2 separate regions of the Homo sapiens genome follow, and region 2 is linked to region 1. Evidence: fine-mapped expression QTL. A gene starts in region 1. The other region holds a variant in brackets. All regions are shown on one strand. Distances are between the middles of the regions.

What was found. PIP is the estimated chance that this variant, and not a neighbour inherited with it, causes the effect.
Region 2: its variant is the best candidate, but not a certain one, in a credible set for the expression of CEP152 in whole blood (TOPMed, PIP 0.67).

What each region holds. Positions count from the first base shown.
Region 1 is chr15:48,808,585-48,813,967 of GRCh38, forward strand. It overlaps CEP152 (centrosomal protein 152), which reads right to left and starts at 2,485. Exons shown (of 27, transcript NM_001194998.2): 1 at 2,377-2,485. LOC124903487 (a long non-coding RNA gene) reads left to right here and starts at 2,114. Exons shown (of 2, transcript XR_007064626.1): 1 at 2,114-2,223; 2 at 2,347-3,325. RefSeq lists enhancers at 1,635-2,196, 2,855-2,914 and a silencer at 2,489-2,679.
Region 2 is chr15:48,738,136-48,743,518 of GRCh38, forward strand. It overlaps CEP152 (centrosomal protein 152), which reads right to left. Exons shown (of 27, transcript NM_001194998.2): 25 at 3,812-3,965; 26 at 3,466-3,569; 27 at 1-1,153. The coding sequence ends at 114. Among named protein-coding and RNA genes, the nearest start is that of CEP152, 70 kb to the right of the region's middle. The variant A/G (reference allele first, on the strand shown) is at 2,796.

The DNA.
Region 1 (5,383 bases):
TCAAAGAAGTGTCATTTAAACAATATGCCATTTTCAACCACTAGATTGAAAAAACAAACAAACAAAAAAAAAACTTGTTATCACCCAGTGGTGACTATTTTGTATTTTGTATGGCTCATGAGTTGCTGGTGAAAATATCAACTGCTAAACCATCTTGAAAACTATCAATATTAATATATTGAAAATTAACATTTACACTAGTAAAATTATTTTGAATTAATTTGTCAATACTATGCCACTAGTAAAAATACTGAAAATTTTCTATATCTATTGACTCAAGGCTGACCACTTGAGAAATCAAGATGCAGATTAAGTATACAGTATGTTTTGGTTTTCTTCTTCAATAGCAGTCTGGTAGACTTTCTTCCTAGATAACTTTTTCTGAACCCTTAACAAGACTATAAAAAGTATGTCTTGTTGTTACACTCAGATGGATGCTCTGACCCAGCATTCCTTTTGTTGTCCCCGGTTGTTTTCTCTGCCCTCCTTGCAACAAAAGCAATGGGTATTTGGACAAAAGATTACAAAGCAAAAGTAGCATTGTTTTTGCTTCATCTAATAAACTATAAGCACCCTGAAGGCAGAATTAAAATGTATCTGCCTGCTTGCACATGGTGGGTACATAACAAATATTTGTTGACTGAATATGATATAGGCATGTTACCTTATACGAATTCATTACTTCAATAAAATTTTATTGAATACCCACTGTGTTCCAGATCATATCCTAGATGCACCTAAGACATGGTACCAGCCATGAGGAGCTCACTGTCTCTGCTCACCCTCTCTTAGATAGAGCCACTGATATAAACAGTTACAATAACATATTGTAATAAATTCCGTAGTAGATGAAAGTACAAAGCACAAATTACTTTTCCTAAGAAGAAAGGATAGTTTAGAGAAGTTTTACAGAAAAAAAAGAGCTTTTAGATTAGAAATAAATCTTAAAGGACACAATATGGCTATAAGTGGTTCTAAGAATGAGGGCACTCATTCAGACAACCTGGGCTCAATTCTGGCTCTTCTATTTATCAGCAGTGCAATCTTGAGCAAACTGTTTCTGCTTCTACGTTAAAGAAATGGGGGTAAAAATAATACCTACTTCAAAGATTGATTCTGAGGATTCACAAGATACTACATGTAAAGTAATTAGCACTATGTACCAATCAATACATTGTAGTTTTATTACTATTATGACATTATTACTGATGAATAGGAGTCTGCCAGCTACCGAAGAGGTTTAGGGAATAAAGAGGATTCCGCATATCTGAGAAAAGGTGAATGTGCAGCCTATGAGAAATGTCACTTCTAATAATGCAACCTCCTATGGAACAAAAATGCCACCCTCCTTCAAGATGCCCTCCCAAGCCTGTTCCCCCATGGAGCTGGCCACTCCTTTGCACTTTCAGACTGTATTTCTTATGCTTTTCTTATGGCTTCAACTTCAGCTTCTCTTTAGTTGAGTGCATTCACCTGTCTAGGGAGTGCATGTTCATTGTCACGCACTATGAAGGTATAAGGTGATAATAGGCTTAAATCAGACTCAAGTTCATGACTACGATATAGGAAGGGTTATAAACCCCCACAAAAGGGGTTTCTAAGAACTGCACTTGGAGTTGGGAAATTCTACTTACTTGCTGACATAACTCGCCTTCTAGAATGGAAATAGCCAGAGCACATAGCCCGGTTTAGACTTGCAACACCTGGTGGAGACACCTTATTCATTCATTCGACAATTTACCAAGCACTGTTCAAGATTACAAAGTTTAACAGGACACGATGAAGGGAAAGAAAATAGACATATAAACAAATGATCACAACATCTTGTGATCAGTGCTAATAACAGCACTTTGGACAAATTGATTCAAGTTGCCCAGAGGGCGGAGCGAGTAATGCTAATACACAATAAGCATCCACAGGCTGAGCGAATGACCTTGAGGAACTGTTTGGCGTCAGCTACGGCACTACAAACATGACCAAAGCCGCACGGGGCCCAGGATGCCCGGGGCTACTGGCTTCGGGTGCCAGCGTCACTTGTACTCGGTCAACACACGTGCACAGAGCACCTACTGTGAGCCAGGCGTGACGCCAGGGTGACCAAGGCGGGGTCCGCAGAGTAGGGTCTCAGGGCGACCCCAGCAGCCTGGAAACGAGGCGGGCTTCCCATATGTCACTTCTAAGTAGGATATTGGAGGAATGAAGAGGTCTAAATGACACGTTAAGGTAAAAGCTGAGCCCGCAACATGCGGGCAGTCCACCACCGCGGGATTTGGGGAGGGGGCAGGTCAGCCCCCCCAGGAACCCTCAGCCAGCATCCCGAGGACCCCGCAACTCCTCTAACCCCAGGTCCAAGCTCACCCGTGAATCAGAACTTACCGGAGGCCACGGAGGCTGTTACCGCGAGGAAACTCTAGTCCTGGCGGAAGACCAACTTCTAGCAGATCCCCTTACCCTGGCTCTAGTCCACTAGCTCCTTCCTAGTCACAACCGAACTCACGGGGCGGAGGCCCTTAAGGAGCACTCGCATCCTTCAATCGCCGACTAGAAGCTCGCCCGGTGGGCGGAGCCGTGCCAGCTCAGGGCAGAGCGAGGAGGCAGAAGTCTCCGCCTTCCTCAAGCTTGGTTGAGAAGTCCACCTGCAGTTGCAAAGTACGGCTGTTTGAAAGCGGGCGCCAGAGGTGGCGGGAAGCTCCCCCTGTGCGCCCATTGGTGGATTCGAGAGCCAATTACGAGGAAGTCACCCCGGAGTGGGCGGGCTGATCGGTTGCCTAGAGACGCCGAGGCGCTTCACCCGCTACCTTCGGCCAGGGTGCAGCAGTCTTACGGGGACCCCTTGCCCGTTTGGTACCGGAGACTGCAAAGGTGACTCGTGCCTCCTGCGCTTCAGCACACAGAATCCCGCAGATTCCCCACCGAACTCTTGCCTTAGAGGTTTTTTACATTTGCCCTTGTTTTCTAAGGCGCCTGCTTCCCCATTATTTAACAGCCTTAGATATTTTGCTTTGTCTTCTACCTTACTAGGTGCCGCTTTGTTTACATTTTTGCTTCTTTAATTACTGATAAGATGGCACATTTTTCCACGTGTCTATTTACTACTCTAATTTCCTCGGGTGTGAGTGTTCTTGTCACTTAGGTGTATATTATTAACCTGCCCCTAAAGACAGCGCCACCCAGTCCTCAGTAAAGCCCAGTACTGTGTCTATCTTCTCTGGCTGAAAGGGTTCCAGTGAATAATCAAGGAATTGGTGGCGGCAGGTTCACATATCCTTTCAACCCTTTCCCATGTGTACTGGCACGGAGTAAAATGGTTGTTCGAGGCTCTTCATACTGTGGCTGGTTTTCCTTTGCTACTTCACCGTCCGCCCCCATGATGCCTACACTGACCCCTGTAACCCCATAAACTGGTATAGGGTTTGGCAAACAACAGGTAATTTAACCCACTGTAATAGAATGAACGAAATCACAGCCTGAGCTAACAATGGTTCCCAGAGCGCTTTTTTTCTTTCACCTGCTGTGAAAGCTGTTTCTTTCACCTGCATCGCCTCTACCTTCTCCTGCTACTTAGTTTTGAAGACAGACTAGCACCTCCTTTGAAGCCTTTCATGACACACACTCCCTCACTTCGCAAAAATGATCTTTCCTACCTCTGTACACAGTGTATCCTATATATCCTATTATAGTTCTTTTATCTACTGTAAGTTTTTGTGTGTCTTACACTCAGTACAACGTGAATATCTTGAAGTACTCACTTTACTTCTTGGGTGTCTAACATGACCCTGGTAGGCACTCAAAACAATTATGTTAAATGAGTAAATGAATAAATGAACAAATAGATGAAGATTTTGGCAGGGGGGCAGGCAGAAAAAGCAAATAAAAGGCCTTCAAGTAAATGGCATTTGTTGAATCTGAGCCAAGGCATCTTAGTGAGAATTAAATGCACTTTTCACTTTTCACATCCCACTGAAGTCGATTGGCAAACTGTATGTTGCATTCTGTGCTGAGGGTTATGATGGAGTGCTGCAGCAAGAATGCCAGGTGATCCCCATGCACAAACAACTGCTTCTTAGAAGGATGAAAGCATAAAACGTGTCAGGGTAAGCACATGAGGAGGCAGTGTTTATAATCCATTACACAGTGCTTTACAGATTGGTAAATTCTTTCACAAGCATCATCTCATTTGGTTCTCACTACAACACTGTGGGGGGTTAGGACAGGTATTCCTACCCATTTTCCAGTTGAAGAAACTTACATAAAAATAAATTAAATGACTTGTCCAAGGCTACACAGCTAATACAAGGCAGACAGAATCTGAAACCAGGTCCTTTATCTCCAAACCCAGAGCTCATCACTACATACAAAATATTTTAGTGAGACTAGCATATACGTGACAAAGAGGGAAAATAAAGAATAAATCAACCTCCCATCCTGCCATGCCTCTAAAAATGGTTTTTGGTGGAGTTATGGATATATTCAACTAAATTTCTTTGACCACCTATCCTGTTTAAGTCCTGGCCTAGGTGCAGGGTAGGACCCCTATGCTCAAGGTACCAACACTCTGAGTTACAAGATGCTTACGTAGAAAGATAAATAATAATAAAAATTGTTTACTAAGTGTAATAAGAGTAGAATAGGCAATAATTCTAGGGAAAGTGAACACCTAAAGATGAATCTATCAAGGCAGGTTCAAGGAAGAAGAGAAGGAGAGAGCTCAACAGGTCAGTTGATTAGCATGAGTGCAATTTAAAGGCCAGACCAGCAAAAGTGCAGGAATCTTACATTTAGATGTAAGTCTGGAGAAGAAGGCAGGAAGGAGGTGGTCCATAGAAGAGCTTTAAGCCTGGGAGAATAGGAAGGGCATTCTACAGAGGTCAGGTAATGGTGTGCACAAGGAATGAATCTAACATCCAAAGAAACACAAGCAGACAGAGGCATTCTGGGATAAGAAAGGCAAGTGTGGGAGAAGAAAGTAAAACTGCCAAAGATCTCAAATGCTGGACAAAAGATTATTTGTGAAACGTTGGCTCGATGTTTACCTTGCATGTTTTAAATGGGCACACCTATGAGCTGGGTGAGACATTTCAAGAGAAAATGTCACATTGTTGATGAGATGGGGTCCCTCCCACTAACAAGCATTTATAAAGGTAAAGCTAAACCATTATTTCTCCTTTTTCCTCCTTTTTGGTGTCAAAGCTATCAGGTCAAAGCAATGTCATCACAGGAGTGCTATCCAAAGTGCTATCATCAAGGAGTACTATCTTCAAAGGAACACAGAACTTAGAGTAAGAAGATCTGAGTTCAAGTCCCAGTTCTCCTACCTACTAGCATTGTCCATAACAATTTAACACTCAAAAGCCTCAAAGTCCTTATCTGAAAATAGGGATGA
Region 2 (5,383 bases), 70 kb before region 1:
GATGTTATTAAAACATCTCAAAAGAGGCAGGGCTCACAATTTTTTTCAGTATGAGGTCTTCCCTTCCATTTTTGTTAATATATTAATGATTCTTCTTAAATACTGTACCATAATTAGTCTAGATTAACAAATGGGCTATCAAAGCCACTATCTTGTTGGCTAGATAGCGGAACAATTAATTTTCTTGAAGGCTGCTGACACACTGAAGATGGTAATGTACTGCTCAGTTTTTTGAAATCTGACTTTAATCTATCAGCCTTATGACGAGATGGGTGTCCACAATTCACACTGATCTTTCCTGGCTCCAAATACGTGGTTTCTTCTGACAGGTATGGAGTTTGATAACGCTGACATTTCATTGTTTGACAAATCATATTACTTTCCTCTGTATCTGAAAGATAACCGGATGGTGAAAACTGTTTGGATTTAACAGATTCACTTGGTATTTCCAAAGTTCCTTGTGGCCTACCATGTACAAATGATGCTTCACGACTGTCAAAGGATAAGGTTGCACTGCTGGAAGGCCAGCCCAAGCAGTCACTAAGGTCCCCTCCATCTTTTACTGGAGGTTCCTGAACATCCAAACCTTGACTTTTCTCAGATGCAGCATTTTCACTTTCCATTAGTGGATTGCATTTATATACTTTTAAACCAAGTCTTTCATTAGAATCGCGAAAGGTTATATGCATGCATCCTGATTCAGAAGGACCAGGGGTACATCTAGGTGAGGGTTTATTTCCTAAGGTTCCAAGAAAGGGGTATGCAGCTGAATGCGGAAGTGATTCAGAACCATTATCACTGAGTAGGTCTTTCTTCTTGTGCAAACCAAAGCCTCCTTCACCTTCACAAGGAACAAACTCAGGAGAAACATTCCTTGGCAAACTGTTTAGGTGCTTGCAACTACCATCCCCAAACTGGAATTCCAAATGTGTCTCTTTGGATCCCACATGCTTTATGCTCTGATGCTCTGAGTTCTCTAACAGCCTTTGTAAGTTACAAGCTGCCCTCCTCTTGGGAGCTTGTTCGCACAGAGTTCTGGTGATGGTGTTTACACTATTTGATTTGCTTTCAATACAACATGGTATTTTCTGATTCACATCATTTCTTTTTGATTTTTTAACTGCAATCAGCATCTCTGAAGTTAGGGGCAGTGCTATTATGTGCAAGGAAACACGAAATTAAGAGAAAATTAATATTTAAAGGGAAGATTCATCCTTGAACAAAAAAATAAAAAAAATTAAAAATAAGAAAAAATTTATGTTTTTATACTGTATTCCCAAAGAATGCTTATATACTGTAATAATTCTTAAAGAAAATACATCAATGCTGGACATTTAAAAATATTCTTTTACATATATCCACTAGATAAAGCTTGGTAATTTTGTTACTAAGATCTGATATATAATTATTATTGCTATCCATCTGACCTATCATTTTCTGCAATAGATGTTATAGCAATTTCAAGATCCAGCCACAATGTTTTCAATCCTGCCCTGATTCTGATGTTAAGAATGGAGTTTCTGACAAGTTCGCTCAAAGAACCCCACCCACCCAATACCTACACATACACTTCTAGAATAGCTAAATAGACTTTCTGATTTAATTACCTAAGACACTAAATCTGATCAAAGACAAAGCAGCCACATAGCATGAAATTAGAGGCATTGTATCTCAGAGTAGCAAGCCCTAGAGTCCATGAAAAGGATTTGCTTCTCTACTGGGGACATTATTTGCACACTGTTGCCCCAGATCTAGAAAATTATTTTCTTGTTATATGTTACTGCCTTTTCATACCTAAGGTTCACATCACCATTCCAAAATTTATACAAATAATCTTTGGCTTGTACATGAGGAATGTTTACCAACATCAGACTCATGGACCCCTGAACAATCTCAGCTTCAAGTTTTCCAGAGGTTCAAGAACCCCATTTCCCCACTGATATGTTAAAAATCTCTCAGTGTGATTGGGAATTTACCAGTCTTTTTCATGTATTTCTATCAGCTCTTGCTTTATATAAAGCTGTATGATCTACAGAAAGAAAACAATTACAGTTTCTTGGGAGACTATTCCATTATCATTATGAACTATCAGCTTTGTCCCTTTTAATGCTAACTCTAATTTATCTAATCTTTTATTTACCTCTATAATTTATCTAATATCAACACTGCATTTGCTTGGTATATCATTCTCCATCCCCTGATTTTTAATTTTAGATGTTCTTCTTGTAAAAATAGCAAATTTCCACATTTTTAAAAACCCTATTTGAAAGTTGTGGTCTTTTAATAACTTATATGAGTTTAACCTACTTATATTTAGTGTGATTGTTGATGTTTCAAACTACTATTATGTCCTACTTACCCACGCTCTCTAGGTTTTTTTCCTCTTTCCTGATTTTGTTAGATTGAAAATGTTTTTTTCCAAGTTTTTCCTTTACCAGTTTTAAAGTTATACGTTCTATGTTTTTGTTGGTTACTCTTACTTTTTTTTTTTTTTTTTTTTTTTTTTTTGAGACAGGGTCTGCTCTGTTTCCCAGGCTGGAGTGCAGTGGTGCGATCACAGCTCACTGCAGCCTTGACCTCCCGGACTCAAGTGATCCTCCCATCTCAGCCTCCCAAGGCAAGTCGGCTCCCAGTTCCTGCTTGATATGGCTAGCCACCTGGAGCACTGCCCTGCTCCCAGATTCTTTGTTCCTGTTGTTGTTGCCCAGCTCAATATTGAGGTTGGGGAAAGGAGGGGAGAAGAAGAAATAAAGAGAGGATTAACCCCACCTGGTTGCTGTTGGTTTAGAACACCA[A/G]CTAATTACCCCATTCATATCCCCTAGGCCCTCTATTTCTCCTGGAACATATCACCCTCATATGTGGAACAGTTTTGATATTGCTCCTAATTGCAATAGTCATCTCCCGGTGGTTTTGAACTGAGGTTTCCATCTTCCATCCTATACTGTCTTCTTTCTCTCAGGGATTTCTTGTAGCTTCTGGTCTATCCACTGCAAACTTTTTTTTTTTTTTTTTGAGACAGGGCCTCACTCTGTCACCCAGGCTGGAGTACAGTGGCACAATCATAGCTTACTGCAACCTCAAATTCCTGGGATCAAGGGATCCTCCCACCTCAGCCTCCCAAAGTGCTGGGATTACAGGTGTGAGCCATGATGCCTGGCCCACTGCAACTTTTTAAAACCCACTTATAATTTCTTCTTTTTCTCATTCTTTATTTGCTGTTTAAAATCTTTTCTATCATTTCGAGGGATGGAAGCAGCAATAGGAAACTGATGGGCATGCTCAGTCTGCCTACTTAAATTGGAAACTGTGTACTCTTTTTGCGTAAACTTCTAGTTTAAGTAAAACATACAAAACTTCACAAATTAACTCTCACTCCTTACCTTCCCTGCCTTCTTCATACTGAAAATATTAAATAGCTAAAGAAGAAAAGATAGAAAAACCATTTGGCGACTCACTTTGACATACCTGACTGTGTAGTTTTGCTTTGGGACTTACTAGAAATAGGTGTTTCCAGTAATTTTGCCATTGTAGCAAGTTTGCTAGCAGCATTCATAATCTTTTTCTCAGCCCTGTGGGGAATTCCAGAATATTAAAAATATAGTTTAAAGGAAAAAATGAGTTGCCTTAGCCCCATGGTTTCTGTTTTCCTATTGGCTCTGCCAACATTTAGGGTAGCACAGCCATAAACCTCTCTTAACCCCCTATGGCTGATCATGTAGAAATAGTTAATTTAGTGGTTAAGGAAAATGCTTTAAAAATGATAACATGTTGTCCTGGTAATCTCAGGACACATTGTTCAGACTGAACTCACCCTTCTTTTCCATCATCCTGCAAAATCTGTTGGAGGCAAATCAAATAATATTTGCGCATCTTTCGGGCGGTTTCTTGACGTTCTCGCAGTACCTCTGCTTTTACCATTTCTGCAGCTCGTTCCTTACTCTCCTGAATATAACGAAGCATGTCACCTATAGGGAAGTGAGAAAATGCCCACAGAATGTATGTTTATTAGCACTTTTTCAGAAACAGGAGGGGCAGACTTCAGATCAATTTTCTGGTAGATGAAGTGATTTTAAGTATAGTTTAAACATTATACTTTCCACAGTCATTAAAATGGAATATTTTAGATCATCATTTTGGTAGACTCAAATGAGAAGTACTCTATAAGTTCTTTCGGAATGATGACAGCTACATATAGTAAGGAAACATGGCATATTCCCCAGCTAAATTTTGTCATATTCTAAAACACTTAGCGAAGAAAATACTGTAAATATGAGGTACAGAAACTTAGTATTTCAATTGTACATTATGTCCAGTTAGGAAAAGAGAAAAATAAAATATAGAGAAAAGGTTAAGCAGAAAGAAAGGAAAAAGCAAACACAAAGACAGAAGAAAAGGAGGCAGTATGAGCTGGAGAGACTCATTCTTCTCTAGTGCTCTGAAAATTTACGTTCCATTATTTATTGAAAATTCTTTCAGCAGCACTTTTTGAGCATCTAACTAAATATAATATTACAATTCATAAGAGATATGTACAAAATGAGACTACAAGGAGGGTGATGGGACTTATAGTTGGCCTCTGAAATTTACATATAAACATAGCCCACAGCTTTCAAGTTTTTTTTTTTAACTCAATATATCTTTGATTAGGACTACTATTAGCTAAGGCTAACTTTTATTTTTTTTTTTAATAAATCCAAGACTACATCCTACATCTAGAATTTCACCATCTCTGTTATATTAAGGATACCAATTCATACAGGAATCTTCCTGTTAATGTCAGTAAGCATCTGAAAATTAGTGGTTCTATGCAAAAATACTAACTGGGAGACTGTTTTTCATTATTTGAAATGGAAAATGAAATGCAGTACATGTCAAAACAAAACCTCCAACCAACTTTCTAAAAAATAACTAAAACATAATATACACACATACATACAAGTTATCACATTAGGATGAAAACATGCTTAAAATTCCACTTCCCAATTAATACATTATTAACAAAAAGTTGCGTTGCTTGTAGCAATATGCCCTTTATTAGCACCAGTAACAACGGAGAAGCAAATTCCCTTATAAATACCGAATGAGCTTTGTAGAACATCTACACGTGATTCTGAATCTACCAATTATATTTGAAACTTCAGACTTTTCCTGCTCTTTTTGTTAAAAAGAAATGTAATTTTAGGAAGTTAATATACATTTTTCCTATATAAACACTACTTATTGTTTTGGGACATATATCCATTCTATGCATATTAGAATTAGAAACCAAGAAGTATTCAAAACAGGGAAAACACACATCAGGAGAATGCTCTACAGGATATGCTGGCACAACCTGGTACTGACAAGGACTTGATAAATTTATAGCTATGAGAAATAATAACCA